Linked DNA regions of Homo sapiens: region 1 is linked to region 2. Evidence: fine-mapped expression QTL. A gene starts in region 2. The other region holds a variant in brackets. All regions are shown on one strand. Distances are between the middles of the regions.

Region 1 (2,926 bases), 36 kb after region 2:
CAGAAGTAGTCTCTCAAGAGGGGAAGGGGGCACAGTAGAGGCCACTAAACCATGAGCAATGGTTCACCCCTCCCCTCTCATCTAGCAGCATAACAGGATGGCTGGTCAAGCATCAGCAACTCATCTGTCATGTATCAGCAACTCCCCACCACCCCTAAATAAAGGACCTGCAGGTGGCACATCTCTAAATAATACCATACATTTTGAGAGGCCAGTTTTCTGAAAAATAAGCCAGGAAAGCTTAGCATTTTCAAAATGATGTAAGCAATGATCTAGCTAGAAATCTTGGATTCCCTTCACCTATATTTGCAAAGTATGATCCTTGATGACAGGAAGCAAGAAGGGGTACTCTCACTTGCTCAGACATTTCTTTTGCCTTTGCAAATTCCTCCTGAAAACAAGTCAACTCACACTCTGACAAATCAAAAAACTAATTTCCCACAAATTGGTTAGCTTTCTCTTTAGCAAAAAGAAAAAAAAAATGTGCTTTGGAGAGTTTGAGGTTTTTTTGTTTTTTGTTGGTTTGTTTTTTGTTTTTTGGTTTTTTTTTTTTTTTGAGACAGAGTGTCACTCTGTCACCAAGGGCTGAGTGCAGTAGCACAATCACAGCTCACTGCAGCCTCAACCTCCTCATGCTCAGGTGATCCTTTTACCTTGGCCTCCCAAGTAGCTGCGACTACAGGCGAGCACCATCACATCAGGATAATTTTTCTACTTTTTGTAGAGACGGGGTTTCACCATGTTGCCCAGGCTGGTCTCAAACTTCTGCGCTCAAGTGATCCGCCTGCCTCGTCCTCCCAAAGTGTTGGGTTTACAGGCATGAGCCACTGTGCCCAGTAGAGATCTTGATAATTCTCTAAATACTTCTTCATTAATTTAAAGTGTCAAAATCTTTGAGTAGGTTCTTTGAGGGCCGTAGGGACTTCTGCTATTATTTCTGTAATGTGCATTCCAGGCAGAGCCATTCTTAAGGCCAAGTGTTCCTATTCTACCAATTCCCCATGCTTGAGAAGACCCCAATGACATGATGACAAGGCAGTTAGAATTATAGCAAAAGATGGAGCAGGCAAAATGGGTAGTTTCAGTCATAGCTAGTAAAAATTTGAGACAAAACATATAATAAACTATCTGGTATATAAGTTTTTTCTTAAAAATGGAGGAAGGAAAGTAGAGCTGGACAAAGGACAAGAATACTTCCTTCCCTTCATACAGCAAGGCTGCCTTTCTCTGGCTCTTGAGCCCATTGGTTTGCTGCAGTGTTGCTGTTCTGTTTGGGGCTCAGGAAATGCCACTAAATCCTCACAAGTTT[G/A]ATAGCTAGTCGTGCTTGGTCTTCCACTGAACATTCCCCAGCCTTCCTCTGGAAGAACTTTGACATATTCTCTTTTTTGTCACACAGTCTTTCCTAAGAATATATCTATGCATTAATCTCTTTGTCTCTGTGTAAGCCAAATTGGTATGATTCTTTTTACAGGAAACAGAAATCTGGACACCTAGAGAAAATGATACTATCACAATTTACTCCACAATTAATCATTCCAAAGAGGTAAGCCCACGATTGCTCCATGTTTTTATATTCTTACCTCTCTCCACAGACCTATGATTTTTCAAATAAAGTAAAAATAAAAGGGTCATTTTACAGATGCACAAACAGCAGCAGCATGCGGAAAGTCTCAGGACATCACCAAAACATAATCAAGAAGTTATTTTGTATTAGGATCACCATGCATAACTGAGTTTTCAATTACATGTTTTTAAATTTAATCCTGCCCTATGCTATCAATATCTCTATTATCTGCCTCTCTGTAGTCTCCAGTCCTCTCTCTGTAGTTATGAGGGGTGGGCTGAGGTTCCAGTTCCAATTAACCTACCTCATCTTCCTCTTTTTCCCACAGAGTAAACCCACTTTTTCCAGGGCAACTGCCCTTGACAATGTCGTGTAAGTTGCTGAAAGGCCTCAGAGGAATTCGGGAATGACACGTCTTCTGATCCCATGAGACAGAACAAAGAACAGGAAGCTTGGTTCCTGTTGTTCCTGGCAACAGAATTTGAATATCTAGGATAGGATGATCACCTCCAGTCCTTCGGACTTAAACCTGCCTACCTGAGTCAAACACCTAAGGATAACATCATTTCCAGCATGTGGTTCAAATAATATTTTCCAATCCACTTCAGGCCAAAACATGCTAAAGATAACACACCAGCACATTGACTCTCTCTTTGATAACTAAGCAAATGGAATTATGGTTGACAGAGAGTTTATGATCCAGAAGACAACCACTTCTCTCCTTTTAGAAAGCAGCAGGATTGACTTATTGAGAAATAATGCAGTGTGTTGGTTACATGTGTAGTCTCTGGAGTTGGATGGGCCCATCCTGATACAAGTTGAGCATCCCTTGTCTGAAATGCTTGGGATTAGAAATGTTTCAGATTTCAATTTTTTTTCAGATTTTGGAATATTTGCATTATATTTAGCGGTTGAGTATCCAAATCCAAAAATCCAAAATTCAAAATGCTCCAATAAGCATTTCCCTTGAGTTTCATTGATGTCGATGCAGTGCTCAAAATCTCAGATTTTGGAGCATTTTGGATATTGGATTTTTGGATTTGGGATGCTCAACTTGTACAATGTTTATTAGACACATCTCCTGGGACATACTGCCTAACCTTTTGGAGCCTTAGTCTCCCAGACTGAAAAAGGAAGAGGATGGTATTACATCAGCTCCATTGTTTGAGCCAAGAATCTAAGTCATCCCTGACTCCAGTGTCTTTGTCACCAGGCCCTTTGGACTCTACCTCAGAAATATTTCTTGGACCTTCCACTTCTCCTCCAACTCCTTGACCACCATCCTGTATCCAACCATCACCACCTCTAACCTGAATCCTACCTTAAGATCAGAACAGTTGTCCTCACTTTTGTTCTTGTCCC
Region 2 (2,926 bases):
CAAGCAATGGGGAAAGGATTCCCTATTTAATAAATGGTGTTGGGAAAACTGGCTAGCAATTATGCAGAAAACTGAAACTGGTTCCCTTCCTTATACCTTACACAAAAATTAACTCAAGATGGATTAAAGACTTAAATGTTAGACCTAAAACCACAAAAACCCCAGAAGAAAACCTAGGCAATACCATTCAGGACAAAGGCATGGGCAAAGACTTCAATACTAAAACATCAAAATCAATGGCAACAAAAGCCAAAATTGACAAATGGGACCTAATTAAACTAAAGAGCTTCTGCACAGCAAAAGAAACTATCATCAGAGTGAACAGGGAACCTACAGAATGGGAGAAAATTTTTGCAGTCTATCCATTTGACAAAAGGCTAATATCCAGAATCTACAAAGAACTCAAACAAATTTACAAGAAAAAAAAAAAAACCCCAACAAAAAGTGGGCAAAGGATATGAAGACACTTCTCAAAAGAAGACATTTATGCGGCCAAGAAACATATGAAAAAAGCTCATCATCACTGGTCATTAGAGAAATGCAAATCAAAACTACAATGAGATACCATCTCATGCCAGTTAGAATGGCAATCATTAAAAAATCAGGAAACAACAGATGCTGGAGAGGATGTAGAGAAATGGGAATGTTTTCACACTGTTGGTGGGAGTGTAAACTAGTTCAACCATTGTGGAATACAGTGTGGCGATTCCTCAAGGATCTAGAACTAGAAATACCATTTGACCCAGCAATCCCATTACTGGTTATATACCCAAAGGATTATAAATCATGCTGCTATAAAGACACATGCACACTTATGTTTATTGCAGCACTGTTCACAATAGCAAAGACTTGGAACCAACCCAAATGCCCATCAATGATACACTGGATAAAGAAAATGTGGCATATATATACCATGGAATACCATGCAGCCATAAAAAAGGATGAGTTCATGTCCTTTGCAGGGACATGGATGAAGCTGGAAACCATCATTCTCAGCAAACTAACACAAGAACAGAAAGCCAAACAACGCATGTTCTCACTCATAGGTGGGAACTGAACAATGAGAACACATGGACACAGGTAGGGGAACATCATACACTGGGGTATGTCACGGGGTGGGGGGCAAGGGGAGGGATAGCATTAGGAGAAATATCTAATGTAGATGACAAGTTAATAGGTGCAGCACACCAACATGGCATATGTATACATATGTAACAAACCTGCACATTGTGCACATGTACCCTAGAACTTAAAGTATAATTTTAAAAAATCAGTTTTCTTTTGGCTTTTTCTTAGCTTTATACTTAAATATTTTTTTCTAATGTAATTAGAGTGGAATTGTTTTTTGAATTTTATTTTTGGATTACTCATAGCTAGTATATACAATTGCAATTGAATTTTATATTTTGATTTTGTATCTTTTCACCTTGCTGAACTCATTTATTTGTTCTAGTAGATTTTAGGAAATTCCTTACAGACTTTTACATATAAGTTTATGAAAGATGCAATAAAGGACTTTATCTTCTTTTCCAAAAAAAAAAAAAATTTGTGCACTTAGCTCAGAAAAAAGTAAACAAAAAATTAACACAGTTACAAATTAGGATTTTTAGTGCAGGGGAAGAAGTTGTCACCACGCCTCTAAGAGGAAGGGGAAGTCTCAGAAGTATTTTCAGTTTATGACAGAAGGGCAAAAACATTGACTGCCTCAAGGTCTCAAGCACCAGTCTTCACCGCGGAAAGCATGTTGTGGCTGTTCCAATCGCTCCTGTTTGTCTTCTGCTTTGGCCCAGGTAAATGTCAATCCAGATCGGTGTAGTCACTGAGTGACTCCCTGGTTTTGTGCAGCTTGCTCAACCTAAATCGTCTGTATACAGTTGTCTGGCTCTCTGCCAAGGGATTGGGGCGGGAAAGGGGACGCTGGCAGTGTTACCTGATATACTACTACCTCCTCTCAACTTTGGATGCGATAAGCCTGAGATGGTTGTCGGTGAACAATTTCAATTGTGTCTGCATGTAAGAAAGTTATTTGCTGGGGCAGAGGAAATAAGCTTTTGAAGACAAGACTGTTTGTGGTTTATGACCAGCATCTTGTGTTATAAAGAGTACCAAGACCAAGAAAATGGGCCCTCATACCAATGTATCTACTATCGTACTGTGAACCTCAGGGAGGTTACTTATCCTTCCTGAACCTCACTATCCTCATCTAAATTATTAAAAACCTATTATTCAGTTGAGCCAAATTTTCTGGGCCCAACCAAACACACCAAAAATAACCCTCTCACCTTTTGCTCATTGCAAAAAAAAAGGTTTCCATCTCTCCCCTCCTTTAGTGCAAATTAGGGCTAGCTAGTCCAGCAATGCATTATATATGGCAGTGAGAAAAGAATGAACTGATCCAGCTGGCTTCTTGTTTCCTGCTGTCCATTATATGGAGAAGATGAAGATTCATATCACATTTGGGGAACTACAAGTGGTCCACGGGAGACAAAGTGTAGCATTCAGGCAGAGATAGTCCAGGAGACCAATGGAAATCTAGTCCAGAGCTAGCCCAGGGTAGCAGATAAAAGTAGGAAGCATTCACTGAGCACTTATTGTATTTCAAGTATTGTGCCAGGTGCTGTACACACGTTATGAGTCTCATGAGAATTCTATGAATTTATACTATTAATATCTCCATTTTAAAATGAAGAACTGAGGTGAACTTAATTTAAATAATTTGCCCAAATTTCATTAGCCAGCATGCGACAAGCTCTTGTAATAGTTATGAGAAAAAATAACAGTTCAACAAGTGTGGCAGCAGCATAAGAGAAAGAAGAGACTGAAGCAAGAGATCCCATCAATATGGAGTTAAGTAGAGTAATTGGTAATTGGAATGAGAAAGGAATAAATATTCATTGAGCACCTACTGAATGCTTGGCACTCTTCT

Evidence for each region.
Region 1: its variant is fine-mapped to the expression of SLAMF6 in whole blood (INTERVAL, PIP 0.98).

Annotation. Positions count from the first base shown.
Region 1 is chr1:160,485,721-160,488,646 of GRCh38, reverse strand. It overlaps SLAMF6 (SLAM family member 6), which reads left to right. Exons shown (of 8, transcript NM_001184714.2): 7 at 1,472-1,543; 8 at 1,893-2,926. The coding sequence ends at 1,940. Among named protein-coding and RNA genes, the nearest start is that of SLAMF6, 36 kb to the left of the region's middle. The variant G/A (reference allele first, on the strand shown) is at 1,310.
Region 2 is chr1:160,522,008-160,524,933 of GRCh38, reverse strand. SLAMF6 (SLAM family member 6) reads left to right here and starts at 1,679. Exons shown (of 8, transcript NM_001184714.2): 1 at 1,679-1,790. The coding sequence starts at 1,742. RefSeq lists an enhancer at 1,845-1,894.